2 separate regions of the Homo sapiens genome follow, and region 1 is linked to region 2. The links come from fine-mapping of genetic effects on gene expression. Tissue or cell type: spleen. Region 2 holds a variant in brackets; the other region holds the start of a gene. All regions are shown on one strand. Distances are between the middles of the regions.

What was found. PIP is the estimated chance that this variant, and not a neighbour inherited with it, causes the effect.
Region 1: it holds the start of TRIB1, and the variant in region 2 is fine-mapped to the expression of TRIB1 in spleen (GTEx, PIP above 0.99).

Annotation. Positions count from the first base shown.
Region 1 is chr8:125,424,670-125,435,742 of GRCh38, reverse strand. TRIB1 (tribbles pseudokinase 1) reads right to left here and starts at 5,385. Exons shown (of 3, transcript NM_025195.4): 1 at 4,481-5,385; 2 at 2,134-2,426. The coding sequence starts at 4,840. RefSeq lists enhancers at 3,623-3,712, 5,183-5,232 and silencers at 4,523-4,862, 5,593-6,212.
Region 2 is chr8:126,396,926-126,407,998 of GRCh38, reverse strand. No RefSeq gene overlaps it. Among named protein-coding and RNA genes, the nearest start is that of LRATD2, 160 kb to the left of the region's middle. RefSeq lists an enhancer at 7,205-7,706. The variant G/A (reference allele first, on the strand shown) is at 6,906.

The sequences.
Region 1 (11,073 bases), 970 kb after region 2:
TGGAGCTTACAAGAGATATCCTAATAGGAGTTACGCAATTTACTAAGTTCCCATTGCAGAACTGGGAGCCTGTCTCAGAATGCTGCATTCTCTACAAAAGCTAGCAGGGAAGAGCAGCATATCCTACTTCTTCAGAGAGGGCCTGAGCATCCTACGAACCCATCTTCCCTCTTATGACTGCCAGGGCTACCTGGACCCACACTGCATTACAGAACACGGAGCCCAAAGTCACTGCTATTACACACAGGTCATCAGCGCTGGTGCCCACACTGATACATGCACACAGAGCAAACTTTGTCCTCCTGGGCCCAGGCTGCAACAATTAGGATGGGAAAGTTGCAAGGAATGTTAATTACATTTATTGGGGTGTTTAACTGCAAAGAACACTTTGCCTGGACAGAGAGGTTATGCGAGCAAACAAAAGTGGCTGATGGATTTCAGGGACGCAGGGACCCTGAAATTCTTACACAGGGACACACACTCCCCCTGGGATGGCACATCAACATGTGAGCATATGTATTCTACAGGGGGGGTCTCTGTTCAGGTAACAACGAAAGTCTAAAACACCTTCAGTCAAAGGCTCTCTTATGAAGCTGCAGGTGCCTCCTTATTCAGAACCAGCCACCCAAGTCTCCTGGATCCCCCAAAGCTCAAAGCCATGTGGTGGGGAAGCTCTGATATCCAGTGACACCCTGTCTCTGCCTGCTTCTCTGAAATACCCGTTTCAGTAAGTCACTTGTGAAGTTAAATGCAAACATTTGGTACTGGCTGATGGGTCAATTCCTTTTCCTCTCAAAGGTCTGTTTTTTTTTTTTTCTGCCTTCCTGTTCCCTGGAGTGTAGTATACATGTGCTAACTTCAGTATGTCCTCAGCGTGACCTCCCTGTCGTTATGTAAAATACCCATTGGTTCTGTAAACGGAAAATATGACTCAACCCACACTGTCTGCCCCTGATTGGCTGCTACAGCACTAAAACCCTGCACCTGTGCTGGTTACACGAATAGCGTCAGCCTGACATTGCTTAACCCCCGGGTTGCCAAACCCCATGCCCATGATATTCGCCTGTGCAATGCAGATTTCAAAAGCTAGTAAGGAGGTGTGTAAGGCATGTTTCAGAAAATGCATCACCATATCAAAGGAGCATGTTCCAGGAATTAGAAACTTCTTCATTGCCAACAGTTTGCTTTTCTTTGCTAATCAGTGTGTTCCAATAATTATTGCGAGGTCAGATACAAAGTCATGCTTTATGACAGCTCAACCCTGTACTGTTTCATATGCTCTGGAGTCAAAGGTAAAAATGCACAGGTGAGATAAGCCCACTTCTTACAACAAACTAACTCACTCTCACCTCTACAATGTTACAGCCTTACTGCTTGTAATCTTTCCACAAGGGATGTGGCTGGCTCTTAAAATCAAGTGTGGTCTATCTCATGCGGCTTCCTGAATTCTCTAGCTGAAACCTCAGCTTTGAATCTTAATGCCTCATTACTCTCTTATCAAGCTCATCTTGTTCTTTATGAGGTAAGCTATGATCTATATTTAGCAATCCATCCTAACCAACTTCCATTTACTATTCAATGTGGCTATTTTCTGAAGACGGATCCAAACAAGCTGTCTAAAAAGTCACCAGAGAATGTGATGTTACAGAGAACCTGGACTGGGATGGGAGAGGAATGCTGTGTGAAACAAGAGGGTGGAATTCTGCATATATGACAGTCTCACTAGCTCTGTGAAACCTTCCAGGTACAAAACAGCACTTGGCATAAGCAAAGATTTGAACACTTCCTTCAGAAGGCAATATCGTAAAGGGCAGTTTAATATTTGTACCCCAGACAACTGACCTTTCTGACAACAATGGGGAATGAACCTGATCCTGGGGTAGGAGAGGAAGAGCACCCTGTCAACACTTGCCATCCCATAGAAGCGCCACGGTGTCCCCAGGCCCCGTCCAAGAGAATGCAGAATAAACCAACCTTGGCTGTGACTCCTCAGGAACAGAAGCTCTAAATACTAAATCTGGGACATATGAGCCCTTGACTTTGTTTTGCACCAACACACAGCACCTAACTACATGACCTGCACCTCCGCTTTGGTTCCAAAAGGCCACAGGAGAAGCTGTGGCGGCCGCTCACCTCTCCTCCGTGGAGAAGACGAACTTCCTAAGCTTCAGGTCCCCCAGCACGATGGCTGACTGGTGGCAGTGGGCGACGGCGGAGACAATCTGCTTGAAGAGCCGGGCGGCTTCCTCTTCCCGCAGCCTCTTCCGGCTTCGCACATAGGAGTGCATGTCCCCAAAGTCCTTCTCAAAGAAGACATAGGCCTTGGTTTCCCCAAGGATCACTTCCACAATGCCAGTAATGTTGCTGTGCGATGGCAGCTGGATGTAAGGCCTGATTTTGTCCTGGTAGTGTTTAATGGGAAACACCTGTAGAGAGAAGGGGGGCCCGTTTAGGGGGCTAGAAAAGCAAAGGCAGCCTCCCAAACCCCTGAGGGAGCTGAACAGAAGTTCTCAACCTGTGGGCTTAGGATGTGAGTAAGTTCCATTCACCTACTCCTTTCCTCTGCCACCTTACCTTACGCAGCCCCAGCTGCCCCTGACACCTTTAAAACCAGTAACACCTAAAGCTCTAGACTTGCAAATACCCAAAGGGTTACCCGCTTTCACACAGATGATTTGAAAGAACTGTCTCCTGTACATGTTCCCATCTTCTGTCAGCTCCTGAGAGCTAAGCAAACCCCCCACCCTCTGTGGCCCTTTCCTGTTTGCAGGCCACACTAGTTGAGTGGCTGATAGAAGGAAGCCCCTGGCCTGTCCAGGAGCTGAAAAGCAGTCCCTGGACGTGCATGTGCCTCCTGCAGACCCAAAGTGCTCAACACAGAAAGGGCACAGAATGTGGTGACTCTGCAGCCTCCAAGGGGAAGCAGGGGCCAGAGAACATGCAGAGCTGTCATTAATCAGAAGGAACAGATGACTTGGAGGGGGAGGCTGGGACAATGCAGCCTTAAGCAACCTGCCTACAGTCCGACTCAAGTGTAAGCAGCCTTGAGTTACAATTCTCACAGGAAGGGTATGGAATCCTGCGAATGGGTTTTCCACTTGTTTGTTTATCCCCCCACACCCGACCCCACCCCTAGAAATGAGTAGCATCTCCTCTCTTCTAGGAAGCTGGCTGGTCTCTTTAAAGGCCTTTTGTTCAGTCCAGTTACTCATATCCTAGACTCAACTGGAAACGGTGACACACGGGCTGTCACCATCTGGATTCAGCTATTATCTGCTCAGAGGAACTGGAAGGGGTTGCACAATGGCCAGACTCACCCCACCTCTAAGAGGCCTGGCTGCTCTGGCACCAGCTAGAAAAATCCCCTGCTGCCCCCTCCTCCCACCCCATCCCATCCCATCCCACCACACACACATACATGCTTGTCCCAGAACAGCTCTTAGCCCCAGTCATGGAGAAGAAAAGGTTTTTTTTTCCTCCCTATTAAACTGGGCTTGATCATGCGTCTGAAATTTCATTCGGGTTGGGCAGTAGGTGGCAGCAGCGAGCCCCGGGACGGGGTCGGGGTGTTGGGAGTGTCAGGTGAGTTGCGGAAAACCCAGAAGCGACTTAACTGGGGGGTGATCCTATCTTTCGGGTGAAAAGGAGCGGCCCGAGGGTGCTCTGGGGTGCCTCAAGCAGGGGTGCCACGCTCGCATAAAGTAGACTGTGGGAACGTTCTGCGTCTACCCGCGCAGGAGGAGGACCCGGCGGATCCTGTTTCTAGGAGCTGTGTCTCCTCCTCCTGGATGGGATCCCTATGTTCAAAGGAAAATCGCTGGCTGGAAAATAAAGTGAATCGAAGCGAGGGTTCCTGGCCGGTGTGGGCTTTTCAACATTTCTACTCCGAGCAGATTCCTCCGCCTCGGGTGGATGACTCTGGGACTGCTCCCTTGGGAGGGCGTGTTCTAGTCTCAGCGCGGATTCAATTCGGAATCCCCAAGGCAGGAGCCGGACACAGTCTTCCAGCCCCCTTACCACCTACAACTGAGCCCGGGTGCCGTGCAAGCCCGGCAAGAGAGCTGCCAGCTGCTCCAAGCTCCTAGGAGGCACCCACTAAAGGGCGTCCTTCCAGGACATTGGCGGGGGAGGGGGGGTGGAGAGCGAGGAGAATGAGAGAAGGGGAATGGCATGGCCCTGGAATCCATTTCAATTCCACAACTTATATGGAACGCCACGCGCTACACTGGGCGCTGAGGAAAGGAACAGATAGAGAAAGCCACTGAACACTGCACTTCCTCTAGGCGCCCCCATTATATCACTCCATGGGAAACCCCTCGATCCACAAAAACGTGAACCTGGTCAAATGGCGTCTTATCTGACCCAATCTACTGATCCGCCCTGTGCCCAGCCCAAGCGTTGGCCGGACCCCAAGCACCTTTGCCTACCACCCCGTCCCGCGCCCCCGACCCCAGCCGGGTCCTGGCCCGGGAGCGCCTACCTTGCAGCGCAGCTCGCGTCCAGTGTGGATGCACAGCGCCCGGGACACATGCTCGCGCTCGGCTAGGGGCAGCAGCAGGTAGTCGGCGATGCGGCTGGGCCCCGGCGCGCTCCCGGAGCCTCCGCCGGCCCCCGGAGCGGCAGGCGGGGGCTGCGGGCTGCAGGGCGAGCCGGGGGGGCTGAGGTAGTCCGGGGGGCTGGAGCACTCGGAGAGGCGCGGGCACTTGGCCGCCACAGCCGCCGCGTCGTCGGCGTCCAGCAGGCGTTTGGCCGGGACGCCTCGGGTGGCTGGGAAGAGCAGGGCCGGGCCGCGGGGCTGCGAGGCGCCGCTCATGGCAGAGCGCACCGGACCGACCCGCATCCCGTCCTGGGCCGGGGTGGCCCCGGCTTTTTAAGTCCCGGGATCCGCGCGGGAAGACGCTGCGGGTTTGGTGCCGGCTCCGCGACTTCTTCCAGCCGGCGGGATGGAGTTTGCAGACTGGTCTTGGCTCGGCCCCCACGAGGGGCAAAGCAGGAGCCACTCCCCGGCGCTCGCGTTGCACGCGGGGACCACGCTGGCTGTGCGTCCGGGAGGCGGAGGCCGGCTCGAGTCCCCGGACCCCCGCAGGCAAGGGCTCCCGGAGCCTCGCTGGGGGCGGCCGCCACTATTGTTGCCGAGGCTGCCGATAGTCCGGGAGGCAGAGGCGGCGGCGGCAGCGGTCAGCGATCCCGGGGTCCCGAGCCGCGAGGACAGGATTCAGCAGGCTCGGCGGAGCCACGAAGCAAATGCACTTCCCAAAGCGATGAGTCTCCAGCAAAAGCCGGGGGAACTTTTTCGCGGCGCTCGGGATCCTGAGCGCTCCTGGGCTCCGGGCGTGTATGAGAGCGAGCGAGACGCGCTCAGAGAGAGTGACTGTGAGTGAGTGTGAGCGCTGCACCGATCCCGGCCAGTGCACTCCTCCTTCTCCTTTTCCTCCACCTCCTCCGCCTCCTGGTGACTCACGCTGTATACACACACACTCACAGGCCGGGCTGTGTAAACAGTTGGGAAGCCGGGTTGTGCAATGAGGTGGCTGCGACGACTCCGGCCCCGCCGCCCAGCGAGCAGTCTCCGGAGCGGAGGGAGGAGACTGGGGGAAGGGGAGAGGGAGTAGGAGGTGGGGGGAATGGGGGTGGACTTAGGGCTGGGGATGCTCCGGGCAGCGCGCGCTCGGGCGCAGGTGGTGCGTCCCGGGCCGGCCTGGACGCGCGCACACGCCCCCAGGGCTGGGAGGGGCTGGGCAGGAGGCGGCGCGCGCGCCCTCCCGCAGGCCCCCAGCTCAGCGGAGAAGCCGAAGGAGGGGGCGGAGGAAAAGTTCCCGTGACGTAAGGGCCCGGGGAAGTGGGCGGGAGGGACGGGGCTGCGGGGAGCGAAGCGACCGCTGATTGGTGCGCGCGCCTCATTCACAGTAAGCACAATGGGCTGCGGGCGCGAGGCGGGAGCGCGCACCACGGTTCTCTGCACCCGCCGCTCGCTGCAGCCCCGCGGCGACGCCTTTCGCCCCGGGGATCCCCCCACCGCCCAGCGCCTGGGGAGCTCCGGTTGGAGCCGTGGGCGCCGCCGAGGCCCGGCTGCAGCCGGAGGAAGGAGGGGGATAGGGAGGTGATGAATTCCAGAATCAGTCATTCACCCCCACGCGGTAGTTCCGGGGAAGACCTGTGCGTGGTAGTGGATGTGGCTTTTTTTTTTCCCTTTTCCTGCCCCCTCCCAGCTCTAATCCCCAGCGTCTGTTCGCTTCCACAAATAGAACCTTCTGTTGGAGGAAATAAAAGCAAACACTGGGCCTTCTGCGCTGCCTCCACCTCCACGCCCCCCCAACCCCCCCGCGCCTGCCGCCCGCCCGGATTGCACGGAAATAGCTTCTCCAGGCTCCCGGGCCGCCCCTTCGCGGTGACTCGCAGAAAGAGCTTCCTGAGCCAGGGCCGGTGGGAAACAAAGGATGTGGGGAGCGGGCGGAAGGGGCCCACGTGGCTGCCGCCGGATTCCTACTCCCTCCCCAGCCTCCACACGCGCCGCAGGGTCTAGGGCCTGAGTGCCAACCTGGGTAGGTGGGTAGGCTGGTGGAAGTCATTCTGGCCACTGCCAGAGATACCGCCTGCACCCGGGCAGCCCTGCCTGGTGGTGCGCATGCATTCATTCCGTGTGATTTGGAAGAGCATCAAAGTTGCGCGTGAAACAACTTGGAATCTGTCATTTTTCTTTCTTGAGTGAACCAGGTCAGTTTGGAGTCCCTGGGCACCCAACAATATAACTATTATTAGAGAGCCCTTACTTGTCCTTCTGCTAAATACTTAATTTTCTAAAACCAGGTCGAGCCCCAGGAATAAATCATTTTCCTTATTAATTCTCCATTCATTCAACAAATACTAATTAAGCATCTACCAAGAGCTAAACGCTGGGAATTAGAAGGTGAAAATTAAAATAATAATAATAGCTAACATGAATCGAGGCCTACAATGTGTCGGACACTGTTCTTAGCACTTTATATGTATTACTTCAGTTTTCCAACCACACTATGGGGTTATTTTTTGCCCCATTTCACAGGGAAGAAACTGAAGCCTTAGAAGGATGAAGTTAGGCCAAGCGTGGTGGCTCACGCCTGTAATCCCAGCACTTTGGGAGGCTGAGGTGGGCAGATCACCTGAGGTCAGGAGTTCAAGACCAATCTGGCCAACATGGTGAAACCCCGTCTCTACTACAAGTACAAAAATTAGCTGGGTGTGGTGGCGCGCGCCTGTAATCCCAGCTGCTGGGGAGGCTGAGGTGGGAGAATCACTTGAACCTGGGAGACAGAGGTTGCAGTGAGCCGAGATCGTGCCACTGCACTCCAGCCTTGGGGAGAAAGCAAGACTTAGTCTCAAAAAATAAAAAATAATAATAATAATAATTTAAAAAAAGAACGAAAGATGAAGTTACTTGCTGCGGTTAAGTAGCTCATAAGGGGTGGTGCGGTCAAGCTCCTAAGCATTTATGGCGACTGGAAGGAGAGATTACAATTTGTAGGGGAAAACAGGAGTTAGGGAGGACTCTAGAAGGCATTTGACCTGGGAGATGTGCAGGGACTGTGAGGGAGTTGCTCAAGGGAGAGTATGAATGGTGGGAGGCCGGGCCAGACAAGGGGTGTGCGGAAGGGCAGGGCTAGCAGGCCAGAGAAACTACAAGGGTGGTGGGAGCTGAGCCTGCAGAGGTCTCCTGAGACAGTGTTGGGAAGGGCTTGAAAGCCATGTTGCACTTGGTCCTGTGCCCAGAGGAGAGCCCACCGAAGAGTTAGTTAGTTAGTTTGTTTGTTTGTTTGTTTGTTTGTTTGTTTTGAGACAGAGTCTCCCTCCATCGCCTAAGCTAGAGTGCAGTGACCCAATCTCGGCCCACTGCAACCTCTGCCTCCCGGGTTCAAGTGATTCTCCTGCCTCAGCCTCCCAGTAGCTGGGATTACAGGCGCCCGCCACCATGCCTGGGTAATTTTTTATTTGTAGTAGAGACGAGGTTTCACCATGTTGGCCAGGCCGGTCTTGAACTCCTGACTTTAAGTGATCCACCCACCTCAGCCTCCCAAAGTGCTGGGATTACAGGCTTGAGCCACCACGCCCGGCCCCACCTACATTTTTTTTGTCTTTGAAGATTATTCTGTGCCAGAATGTAAGATCCACTGAGCTGCCAGCACTTGAATGGCAAACTCAGCATGGCCCCTGAGCATCTTCCTCCCAGGTGTGTGCCTCCTTCTCTGCCTCTTCTGAGAGACAGGCATGCCACCATCCACCCAGCTCCGCCCACCCAGGGGCCAGGATCACAGGCACTCATCGTGGGTTCCCCTTTGAATCTGCCTTTTTCCTTTCTCCCACAGCCCACCCTAGACCTGTGAGCTCTCAGTGCCGGGCCCTACCCCGCACTGTTCAGCTCCCTGGGGCTGGCCCTCACCAGCTCTACTTCCCAGGCTCACTTGCCCATTGGCTTCCAGCCCAGTTTGCCCAGTGGGAGGCCCGGGAGGGAGATTAGAAGGCAGGAGGAAGAAGAGAATGCCCAGGCTACTATTTGCTTCAGGCAGCTGGCCACACCTCCTCTGGGGCTCCAGAGGAGACAGCCACTCCGCATGGCTGCTGCGATGTGCTCCCCAGATCCCGCTGCCCAACTGGAGGATCTGTTTCCCTGGCTGCTGGGAGTGCATATCAGGAGCTGTTTTGGAAATTGCCTTGACTGAGAAGAGCCACTTTGCCGGAGGTCACACTCCCTTCCCAAGGGTCCACATCCAGTGACTGCTGATCATGGAAGAATAAAGGTCCCCTTGTCCCAACTTGGGCCACCTGTCCAAGGCATCCCAGCTTCAGAGCTCCCAGATTTAGGCCTTCCTAAAATTGCATCACAGCCCAGCTTTTTCCTCTGCCCAATCCTGTTCCTTCCTCCCCCTCTTCCCACAGAATCCTCTTGCAGGCTGGCCTGCATCTCAGAGTCAGCTTCCTGGGGAGTTCAACCTGTGGCACCCCTTCTTCATGGTCCGAGCTCACTCCAGGGACTCTGGCTTCTGGGAGCAGGTGAAACCACCTTTGTCCCTCCAGCCGTAGGGTGGCAGCAGCTTCCAGATGTTGCTAATCTCTGGGTGGCCCCCAGCACCATGTTTTGTTCTGTTTTGTTTCTGCCCTTTCTATGCCTTTGTAACTAGTTTTCTACATAAATTCTATCCACTGAACTTCCTGGCCTGAGTTCCATTTTCCTGCCCAGACCCTGTCTAATAGAAACCTTCTCCCTTTCCCACGTTCGGCCCTCTCCCCACTCCCATAATCCTAGTTCACAACCTTCCCCTGGATTCCTGCAGTAAGTTCTCAATGGAGCCACTCATTCATCCCTTCAACAAACATTGAGCCCCTACTTGGTGTCAGCACCCACTAAGTGCTGGAGACACAGTGATGCACAAAACACAGTATGTCGTGTATCCCCTTGATCCATCCCCCACACAGCTGTGGAGTCACTTTCCTAAAATCCAAATGTGATCACGCAAGGCACTGACCTAAAACCTTGCAGGGACCCCACCCCCAGATAAAATCCAAACACCACAGTATGGAAAAGTAGGCCCTCTTCCAAGCCCCATTTCCCTTCCGAGCCTCACCTTCCAGGCCCACTTCCCTTCCAAGCCTCACCTTTCTTGCCTCCTCCCCTCTGTCCTACCCATGCCAGCTCCTGGCAGGGCCCCAAACTGATCTATCTGCCAATTCACATCTCTGCACTTCAGCCTGCGCTGTTCCCTCCCACTGGAATTCCCTCTCTTCCTTTTCCAAGGAAAGGAACTCTTACTCATCCTTCAAAACACCATCCGGATTTCCCCAGCGCCTGCACTCAGATCTCAGTGTCCTACCAAATGCTGTCGAGTCCTCTGTCCAACTATCTCTCGTGACCCTTTCCACGCAACTGTGTTCCCAGAGGGCAGGGGTTGTGTCTTGTTCATTCGTGTTCATCCAGCCCCCAGCCCAGTGTCCGTTATAAAAGAGGGACTTAGGCCAAGCACAGTGGCTCACGCCTATAATCCCAGCACTCTGGAAAGGCCGGGCAGGTGGATCACTTGAGGTCGGGAGTTTGAGACCAGCCTGGCCAACATGGTGAAATCCCGTCTTCACTAAAAATACAAAAATTAGCCAAGCGTGGTGGCAGGCACCTGTAGTCCCAGCTACTCTGGAGGCTGGAGCACGAGAATCGCTTGAACCCGGGGAGCACAGGTTGTGGTGAGCTGAGATTGTGCCACTGCACTCCAGCCTGGGCAACAGAGCAAGACTCCATCTCAAAAAAAAAAAAAAAAAGAGGGGGCTTAGTAAGTGTCAACCAAATAAATGCACTCCAGGGCAGAGGGTCACCCACAAGGAGAGCCTGAGATGACAGATGGAGAGGAAACACTGGACTTCAGACAGAGACAGGGGCTGGAGAGCAGGGCACAGATTTCGGAGTTAGACGTCTGGCCCTGGAGAGGTAATGGGAGGTGGAGTGTCGGGGAAAGCAGGGGCTTGTGGGGCTCCCAGCCTGCATGCCGGGGAAGATGAACATGGACCTTTGGCAAGGCCTGAGATAAGGCAGGCCGAGGCACAAGGCAGCTAAAATTGTCTTGATTTCTTTGCGGAGGGCTTCCCTACTGGTAAAATCTGGACTGAAATTCCCTCAGACTTTTCAGATACTCACTTGAGGAAGCCAGTGGCTCTTAATGAGCCTCGGTTGTCTCACCTGTGAAATGGGCGTAATAAAGGCCTGGTTTTCCTCTCCTACACAGTTTAGTTTTGTTTAGTTTTGTTGTGGAGATGGGGTTTCATCATGTTGCCCAGGTTGGTCTCGAACTCCTGGGCTCAAGCAGTCCTCCAGCCTCAGCCTCCTAAAGTGCTGGGATTACAGGTGCGAGCCACTGAGCCTGGCCTCCTCCCCTACACAGTTCTTAATGGAAATGAGGAAGTATAAATATGTGGAAAGTACTTTTGGATCATCCAGCCAGACCCAAATGTGGGAGATTATCAGGTATGGGTGTGCCTTGATTTTGAACAGTATTCATTTAGTCAACAAATATTCATTAAGGACTTGCTATATGTGAGAATTGAAAAAAAAAACAA
Region 2 (11,073 bases):
ATCCCACACTGATTTGATAAAGACTACTCCCATATTTTACTGGGCTTTATCCAGAAATATTTTTATTAACATCCTCATATATTTAAGTTGAAGTACATGAAGTTGATGTATTTAAAGGAAATTAAAAAAAAAACAAATACTTTCAATTTCATATGATTCAACCTACAGGTAGGTTGGGACTAAAAGGGAAAATGTTACATAGTTCTCTCTTTGGTTACTCCCTTTGCCCTGACCAATCTCTCTCTCTGTCTCTCTCTCTTTACTTTATTCTTAGAGGCTGTGAAAAAACAAAATGAAACAAAAACCCAGCATTGGTCACGATTTCTACTGGGGGTAGAAGGAAGTACAGAAGGACATGAAGAAAGAAAAAGAGAGGCACTTGGAAAAGAAGGAAGAAAGAAAGAGAGGCAATGACTTATTTCTGCTTTCACTCCCTTGCTCATGGGATTTCCACATTTAATCCTTCTCCCGAACCCTGCCTCATTTAAAAAGGTGCCTCTTGGGTGGATTATTTGAGGCCAGGAGTTCGAGACCAGCCTGGCCAAAATGGAGAAACCCCGTCTCTACTAAAAATACAAAAATTAGCCCGGCATGGTGGTGCACACCTGTAATCCCAGCTATTCGGGAGGCTAGGGCAGGAGAATCGCTTGAACCCAGGAGGCAGAGGCTGCAGTGAGCCAAGATTGCAACACTGCACTCCAACCTGGGCGGCAGAGAGAGATTCTGTCTCGGAAAAAATGAAAATTAAAAATAAATAAAATAAAAAGGTGCCTTTCACGGTCTAGCTCAGAGGATCCCCTTCCTCTGCATTCCTGCAGGGCTCTAGAAAGCCCCATCAAGCATCTTAATAATGGGGTGTGTTATTAAACTTTTTGTGGATACAGGTTCTCCATACACAAAGTGGATTATAAACTTCTCTGCTTCAGACAGGTGAGATGATATAATAGAAAAAATAAAAAGGAACAAAATTTAAACTCAGAAGGGTTGAGTCCTAGCATTTCCACCTAACTTGCTCTAAACATTTGCAGACCTGTTGATATTTAGAGAGCTCCTGTTTAAAGATCCTGGAAGTTAGGCTGCTTTGCAAACTCTCAAGCAACAGAGAAAAAGGTTGACCATTGCTTTTACTTCTTATGTTGCTCATAACCCTCAGAACAGTTTAACACAATGTGAGAACTACTCAATAGAAATGAGTCTTTATTTTTTATTGGCACACTCTAGGAGACACAATGATTTAATCTATTTTTCCCTTCCAAGCTTCTTCAGTGTTTTGGTTTTGCACAGGGCCCATTCTTCTAAAAGGTCCAAGTCCTTTTGCTAAGACTCAAAAAGAAATAGAAATAGAAACTGACAAAGAACCAAAGTCCACAAGGGACGGAAAGAGTCAAACGAGGACAGTGGTGGGAATAGGTTCAAGGAGACACTGCAGGTTTCCTTTGCTGTTGGAATGAGAACCTGGAGATGGTGTAAGAGGCCACATCATTTCATTTGTCATGGAGGAACTGCCCCTCTCAGACTCCTCAGTAGGCTACTCATGTAGATTTAGGCAGCCCCTCAGGAGTGGCTCTTAGGTGAGATTAATAAAAACAAAAGACTGACCCTGAGTCATCAAGAAAAGGCTAAGTAGGCTTCACATTCTCTGTCTAAAATAAAAGGAAAATGTGTTTCATGTTTTAAAGGAATGTCCCTAAAATTAGTATTTCCAAAACATAGGGTTGTCAGTAACTTTGGCAAGTTCTCATTCCCTTCTGGAGATTTGCCTGATACTTCAAAAAAGTTAATCATACTGTGTGTTCTGGTTCCTTCTGTCAAGGACTATTTTCCTGAAATCTTTTGAGGAAGAGTGAGGGCAATTACTTCCCCCTGATGTCTTCTCTGTTTCCTAACAGATCACAAAGAACTGATCACTTCTACGGAAGGAAGAAAGGAAGGAAGGAAGGAAGGAAGGAAGGAAGGAAGGAAGGAAGGAAGGAAGGAAGGAAGGGAAGGAAGGAGGGAGGGGAGGGGAGGGCAGGGGAGGGGAGGGGAGGATATATGTGTGTTTGTACAGACACACACACACACACTCACACAGTACATCCCTTGTACTGGGCTATATGTCACATGCTAATCTAAATGCTTTTATATATAAACTCATTTAATCTTTACAATAACCCTTTGGCGTGTTACTGTGTTTTTCATTTAGAAATAAACCAACTGAAGCAATGGAAAGTTGAGTAGCTCACCCAAGACTGCAGCCTTAGTAAGTAGCAGGGCTGGAAATTGGACCCTCTGCTTCTTGGTGTACTTGAGTGCATCTCTATTTCAGCACTCTGCTCAGGGTAGCATTGTCTCACCAGCCAGTCCATGTGAGCTCTCTGGGTTAGGTGCTGCTTCTTAGCTTTGTATCCTCAGGGGTTTTGTCCAATGAGTTAAAGAGAGGATTTAATGGGTGGCCTGTGGCCTGGACCCCAGTCGATTTCTTCAGAAATTAATTGTTCTTCCTGAATAAAAGATTTAACATTCATCTGCCTAGCCCTTTACCACATGAATAGGGAACCATGCTGGACAGACAGTCCTCCTTTTTACGTCTGTGAAATCTGAATGATAACATGTGTCCTTTCCAATCCAGGGCTATTGTCAGGAGTAAATGGAGAGACCCTTTGAAGAGGATAAAGTGTGTCACAGACGCAAGGCATTTAATAATTAGCAAAACTTTAATACACACACAAAGGCTGCATTATAACATACAAATCAAAACTATGCTGCACAAACCAACTAATAATGCCATACCAATTCATACAGGTAATGCAATTATCTTTTCTAATTTATCCATTACACTGCCATTTGAATAACTTTCCTTTTAAGGCAAAAACCTGTAAGAAACTCCACTTTGCCTTTTTGAGTTAGTTCTAACAAGGACAAAAACAGGAATTAATGTTTAATGAAACCCTACTTTCTACCTGGCCCTGTGCTGTTTGCCTTGGCTCAAAGCACAGTGATGACTCCTGGTATAATCTCAGCTGAGTGACTTAACCTCTATGAACTGAAGTCACCTGAACTGTAAAATAGAAATAACGATAATGTCTACAGCCATGTATAGCACAATGGCACCAGATGTAAGGGGTTGCCGTTCCCATCATGAGAGAGGTGGATCTTTGTTACCAAAGCTTCCTAGCAGATGCCAATATTGTATCTTGTTCTAATAAGAATAGTTTATTATGACAGTTTTCCAATAGATGGAAGTAAAGTGGCTTGAAGAAAGGGAGCCTTTTGCTGATCCCTACACAGGCTCTAAATAGACAAGGAGCAATACCAAGTTCTTAGCTCAGGGTTGTTGTAAGAATTGATTGAGGCCAGGTGTGGAGGCTCACGCCTGTAATCCCAGCACGCTGGGAGGCCGAGGCTGGCAGATCACCTGAGGTCGCACGTTTGAGACCAGCCTGACCAACATGGAGAAATCCCGTCTCTACTAAAAATACAAAATTAGCTGGGTGTGGTGGCGCATGCCTGTAATCCCAGCTACTCAGGAGGCTGAGGCAGGAGAATTTCTCAAACCTGGGAGGTGAAGGTTGCAGTGAGTTGAGATTGTGTCACTGCACTCCAGCTTGAGCAACAAGAGTGAAACTCCATCTCAAATAAAAAAAAAAAAGAATTGATTGAATAAATGTACAGAAAGTACATGGAACAGTGTTAGAACAAATGAAGGAAAAACAAACTAAAGTACTTGGAACATTATTAGAACAAACAAAAAAGTGGTAATAACTATAATTTATCTGCATTTTCTGGCGTAATATCTTTGAGTCCTCATCATAACTTTAAAAAATACTATTTAAAAAAAGCTTTGTTTGTTGAGGGATGATTAATATACGACAAACTGCACTTTTTTTTGTTTGTTTGTTTTTGAGATGAAGTTTTTCCGTTGTTGCCCAGGCTGGAGTGCAGTGGCAAGATCTCAGCTCACTGCAACTTCTGCCTCCTGGGTTCAAGCGGTTCTACTGCCTCAGCCTCCTGAGCAGCTGGGATTACAGGCGCCCACCACCACACCCGGCTAATTTTGTATTTTTAGTAGAGATGGGGTTTCACCATGTTGGACAGGCTGGTCTCGAACTCCTGACCTCAGGTGATCCACCCGCCTCAGCCTCCCAAAGTGCTGTGATTACAGGCGTGAGCCACCGTGCCCAGTCAAACTGCACGTATTTAATGCAAACAATTTGATGAGTGTAGACATATGCACACACCCATGAAACCATCATCACAATTAAGATACTAGACATAGATATATCCATCACTTTTACTAATATCCTTGTGTCTCTTCGTGTGTGTGTTTGTGTGTGTGTTAAGGAAATATTACTTTCAATCCCTGTTTAACAAATAAAAAAAGTGAGGCCCGGAGAGGGTTAAATTGTACCTTAAAAGTCAGCTAGGTAGTGAGTGGCTTAGTTTGGGACCCAAATCCAGGCCTGTCTGCTTAAATCTATACCATTAATTACTGTACTTGGCTGTCTTCCAAGCAAACCATGTCTTCTCTTAGTTGAGAGACGAGCATGGAGAGAGGAAAAATCCCAGCGTGAGATTTCTGAATAGAAGGGAGCAGTTGCCCCAGTCTGAGTTGTGCCTAGAGCCCTTTACTTCCTGCACTGAATCTCTGCTTGATCCTCTTTCCGTTTTCCCCACCTCCCACTACTACAACCTCATCGCATCCTTGACCTTCATTTCTTCTTGGTCCATGGCAAAATGTGTCTGTGCTTGGGGAAGAGCTACAACAGGATAAGTAGCAGGAGCTTCAGGCTTGTCTAGAGGTTAGAAGGGGTTTTGTGCTGATGCTGGCAATGGAAGCCAGACCCGGACCGCATAGATGAATGTAGCAGACATACCCACCTACGCACTCTGATGGTGGCTGGCGAAGGACTAAGTAGTGGAGACATGTTTTGAAGATTTCTTTAATGTTTTCATGTCTTGTATTACAAATCCAAGAGCAATTATTTCTATCCCTCTGCATATTATATCTATTTCTTTTAACATAGAGAATGTTTTAAATTTCTAACCAAAGAGAAAAAGTTGATGGATCAGGAAGATGTACAGGACAAAGACTTTGTTTATAACCTGTGTGATGGTTAATTGTATGTGTCAATGTGACTAGGCTATGATGCTCAGTCGTTTGTTCAAACACTAATCTAGATGTCTCCGTGATGAAGTTATTTTTTAGACGCAATTAACATTTATAGTCAGTAGATTTTTGGGTACACTAGACCTCTTTATCCATAGGGGATACATTTGAAGACCCTCAGTGGATGCCTGAAACCTTGGATAGCGCCAAATCTTATATGTACTGTGTTTTCCCCTATACATGGATACCTAAGATAATGTTTGATTTATAACTTAGGCACAGTAATAGATTAACAATAATAATAAATAATAAACAATATACTATAATAAAAGTTATGTGAATGTGGTCTCTCTCTCTGTCTAAAAAAACTTATTATCCTACTCACAAATTTAACGCCTTTTCCATCTTAATTAAGCAGCTACCACACACTGTGGCCTTAACTTTTGCAGTGAGAGGTACAACAGCAAAACTGGCTACATTTCTTTTTCCTTCTTTTTTTTTTTTTTCTTTTTTTTGCCCAGCTAATTTTTTTCTATTTTTGGTAGAGATGAGGTTTCAACGTGTTCACCAGGATCCTCTCTATCTCCTGACCTCGTGATCTCCCCACCTCGGCCTCCCAAAGTGCTGGGATTACAGGCATGAGCCACCGCGCCGGGCCCTTTTTCCTTCTTTATAATTTCATAGATAGAAGATTTATTCTTATCATAGATCTTAGCAACATCAGCATACAATTTGTTTTCTTACTAAGTCTAGAACTTTCACCTTTTCACTTAAGGAAAGCATTTTCTGGCTTCCCTTTGGCATGTCTGAATTGTCGGCATCACTACCCTTGTGCTTTGGAGACATTATAAAGTAAAATAAGGATGACTTGAACACGAGCGCTGCAATGCCGTGACAACTGATCTGATAACCGAGCTGGCTACTCTGGAACTGTCAGGCAGGTAGCGTATACAACATGGACATTCTGGACAAAAGACAATTCACCTCCCAGGACAGAGCAGGATGGCTCAACATTTCATCACGCTACTCAGAATGGCGCACAATGTACAACTTATGAACTGTTTATTTCTAGACATTTTCATTCAATGTCTTTAGACCATGGTTGACCACAGGTAACTGAAACCACAGAAAGTGAAACTGTGGTTAAGCGGGGATGACTGTAAGCAGGTTACTTTCTGTAATTGGACTCATGCAGTCATTTGAAGGCTTTAAGATCGAAGACTAAGATTTCCCAAAGAAGACGGAATTCTGCTTCTAGACTGCAACACAGAAATTCTGCCTGGGTTCCCAGACTGCAGACTCAAGACTGCAATATCAACTCTTAGGTGAATCTCCATGCCGCTGGCCTGCCCTACACATTAGATTTTAGACTTGCCAGCCTCCACATTTGTGTAAGCCGGTTCTTTAAAATTCTCTCCCTCACGTGTATCTACACACACACACACACACACACACACACACACACACGGTTGACTTTTGAAACAAACCAAAGGTTAGGGGCACCTCCAATGAAGTCAAAAATCCATGTATAACTTTCTTTTTTTTTTTTTTTTTTTTAAGACATAGTCTCGCTCTGTCTCTCAGGCTAGAGTGCCGTAGCATAATCTCGGCTCACTGCAACATACACCTCCCAGGTTCAAGCAATTCTCCTGCCTCAGCCTCCCGAGTAGCTAGCACTACAGGTGTGCACCACCATACCCAGCTGATTTTTGTATTTTTAGTAGAGATGGGGTTTCACCATGTTGGCCAGGCTGGTCTCGATCTCCTGACCTCAAGTGATCTGCCCACCTCACCCTCCCAAAGTGCTGGGATTATA[G/A]GTGTGAGCCACCGCGCCTGGCCAAAAATTCATGTATAACTTTTGATTTTCTCCCAATTTAACCACTAGTAGCCTTCTGCTGACTGAAAGCCTTATCACAAAAAGTTGATTAATGCATATTTTGTGATTAATATATATGTTATATACTGTATTCTTAAGTAAGCTAAAGAAAGGAAAATGTTATTAAGAAGATTATAAGGCAGAGAAAATACCTTTATAGTACCATATTGTATTTATCGATACCCTCAGTTTATATTGTCTGTTTACAAGATGAATGAATTGTCTGCGGTGGCAGCAACTGCAGCTGCGGACCTCAATTTATGGTACATATCAAGCAATTCAATCTTTTCTTGTAATGTCAGGACTTTTCTCTGCTTCTTGGGAGCACTTCCGGCATCGCTACTGGCACTTTGTATGGGTCCCATGGTGTTATTCAAGGTTTACGCTATTGCAGTAAACACGATGAAAAATACGTGAGAAACACTAGAGATCACCTTTTACTGAGATAGGCAATTTACTAGAGAAAGGAACCGCTCATGCGGAGATGATTAGCATCACACAGTGTTTTAAGGGGATACTCGCAACACTTGAGCACATGCAATAGCAACAGGATGTGGCTACAAAATTATTACAGTAGTGTGGTGTATGCCACAGTTAATTTTATGCAGTTGTAATTTAATACTGTATCCTTAGGTTTACTTCCATTTCTCTGGACTGGGAATAGCACCATGTGCAGTCTGTATGTGCATAAGCTTTGATAAATTTTAGTTTTTCTGTTTTTTTTTTTTTTTTCTTAGAGGGAGTCTTGCTCTGTTGCCCAGGCTGAAGTGCAGTGGTGGGATCTCAGCTCACTGCAAGCTCCGCCTTCTGGGTTCATGCTTTTCTCCTGCCAGCTAATTTTTTGTATTTTTAGTAAAGATGGGGTTTTATAGTGTTAGCCAGGATGGTATCCATCTCCTGACTTTGTGATCCACCCGCCTCAGCCTCCCAAAGTGCTGGGATTACAGGCGTGAGCCACCGCACCCGGCTTTTTTTTTTTTTTTTTTTTTTGAGGCTAGTCTCGCTCTGCCGCCCAGGCTGGAGTGCAGTGATGCGATCTCGGCTCACTGCAAGCTCCGCCTCCTGGGTTCACGCCATTCTCCTGCCTCAGCCTCACAAGTAGCTGGGACTACAGGCGCCCGCCACCATGCCTGGCTAATTTTTTGCATTTTTAGTAGAGACGGGGATTCACCGTGTTAGCCAGGATGGTCTCAATCTCCTGACCTCGTGATCCGCCTGCCTCCGCCTCCCAAAGTGCTAAGATTACTGACGTAAGCCACCACGCCGGGCCAAATTTTAGCTTTTTATAATAGACTTGTACATATTTTATGGTAGTAAATGATAAAATAGATGAGTATTTACATATATTTTATGCATTCATGAGACCTAATTTTTTCTTAAGTTTTTGATATTTCTAGGCTACGTTTTGGCAACTTTTTTTGAAATTGTTGCAAGCCTCCAAAAATGTTTGCCATATATTTATTTTTTAAAAATCCACATATAAGTGAACCTGCACAGCTCAAACCCATCTTGTTAAAAGATCAACTGTGTGTGTGTATCTTATTGGTATTGTTTCTCTCTCTCCTTTTTTTATGAGACAGAATCTTGCTCTGTTGCCCAGGCTGGAGTGCAGTGGCGTGATCTTGGCTCACTGCAACCTCCACCTCCTGGGTTCAAGCAATTCTCCTGCCTCAGCCTCCCAAGTGGCTGGGACTACAGGCACTTGCCACCATGCCTGGCTAATTTTATTTATTTATTTATTTATTTATTTTTAGTAGAGACAGGGTTTCACCATGTTGGCCAGGCTGGTCTCGAACTCCTGACCTCAAGTGATCCACCCACCTCGACCTCCCAAAGTGTGGGATTACAAGTGTGAGCCACTGCACCCGGCCTTGGCTTTATTTCTCTAGAGCACCATGACTAATACAACCTGGTAGGTACCTCAAGAGTATGTTCCTTTATCCATCTAGCTTGCACCAGTGACAACAGAAAAGCTGCAGGCATTAGTCAGATAGTATGGCTACACTGCAGTAATAACAAATAAATCCCAAAGTCTCAGTGGCTTAACACTATATAGACTTATTTCTCCCTCACGTCACATTCCATAAAAGGAGGCAAAAACTCAAATGGCTGCAGGGTCCAGACAGCCGAAGTAAATGATTGTGACTTCAGTGATCTTGAGACCAAATGCTTTATTCTAAATTAGGAAGAAATGTTGTCACCTTGTAGGAAAAGGAATGCCTGTGTACATATTTCCACCTTTTAATAGGCAAGAAAAGTTGAGAGTTTTATATGTAAAGTGTCTAATTTTCATATTTTGGTAACATATCCAATTAAAAAAATAAAAGTATGTGTATGCCAAACAAAATCTACTTATTGCAATAGGCCCAGGGGACTCCTGCTGGCAACTTCTGTTTGAAAATGACTACCCAACAATATTTTTTCTTGTTTATCTTGAGCTCAAGCTCAGCTTTGATCAAACTCATAGTTCCAGAAAAAAGCAGTGAAGTCCCGTTTATAAATCACAGAGGACTTCATCTGTCAGCACCACATGTAAAACCAAGAAACTCTAATGATAAGAACATAAAACCAGCCTGCACAGATACTCATATTGCTTACACAAACCAAGAGTGAAAAGACCAGAAAATAAGTGGGACTTCTGAAAAATCACTGTATTACTTGCATAGTAATATGTTTAAAAGTCCTTGCCAGAGACATTTGCATTGGCGTCAGTTAGCAATCCAATATTTTCAATTTGTTTTAATGACATTATTTTAATTAGCTTTGAAGAAGAGTTGTTGAGTTTCAGGAAGACAAGTTGTAGGACTGAACACCTGGGGAGGGAAAGGAGGGAGAGTAGTGTTGTGAATATTAAGCTAACAAGAATAAATGAGCTGGGTGTGGTGGCTCACGCCTGTAATCCCAGCACTTCGTGAGGCAGAGGCAGGTGGATCACCTGAGGTCAGGAGTTCAAGACCAGCCTGACCACCATGGCGAAACCCCGTCTCTACTAAAAATACAAAATTAGCCAGGCGTGGTGGTGCACGTCTGTAATCTCAGCTATTTGGGAGGCTGAGGCAGGAGAATCGCTTGAACCAGCAGGCGGAGGTTGCAGTGAGCTGAGATCACGCCATTACACTCCAGCCTGAGTAACAGAGCGAAACTCTGTCTCAAATAAATAAATAAAAGAATAAATGACTGACGCCTGTAATCCCAGCACTTTGAGAGGCTGAGGCATGTGGATTTCTTGAGCCCAGGAGTTTGAGACCAGCCTGGGCAACATGCTGAAATCCCGTCTCTACAAAAATTAGCTACTCAGAAGGCTAAGATGGGAGAATCACTTGAGCCCAGGAGTTTGAGGCTACAGTGAGCCATGATTATAACACTTCGCTCCAGCCTAGGTGACAGAGTGAGACCCTATCTCAAAAAAAAAGAAAGAAAGAAAGAAAAGAAAAATGAATGAAGCATTATTTGCATGTTTTATGGGTACCAGAATTATACTGTGATCCTCAGAAATCACAGTGGAAAATAGACTTTTATTACTTAGGTCCAGCCAGGCAATAGAAAGCACTTCAAGTATTTTCGAAGAAGGAAATTTACTACATTGAATGTGTTACATAGGAATGAAAGAGTGTGATAAATCAAACGAGAGAGAAGGAACCCAGAAGTTTGACACCCAGAAAAAGCAAGAAGCCACTACTACCTTTGGGTGGAAGGATCCAGGGGACGAGTCTCTCCCGCTACCAGCATGTAAGCTCTGTGAGCATAGAGACCTCATCTGTTTGCTCACTGCCCTGTTGCTCATGCTTAGAACAGTGTGCCTGGCTGCATTCATCTATTCAGGCTGCCCTAGCAAAATGCCACAGATTGAGTGCCTTATACCACAGACATTTATTCTCACGCAGTTCTAGAGGCTAAAAGTCCATGACCAAGGTGCCATCAGGGTTGGTTTCTGGTGAGGCTTCTCTCCTCTTTCTGGCTTGTGGATGGCTGCCTTCTTTCTGTGTCCTCACGTGGCCTCTTTTCACTGTGGGTGGAGAGAGAGAGAGAGAGAGAGAGAGAGAGAGAGAGAGATCTGGTGTTTCCTTCTCTCTCTCTCTCTCTTTTTTTTTTTTTTTTTTTTTTTTTG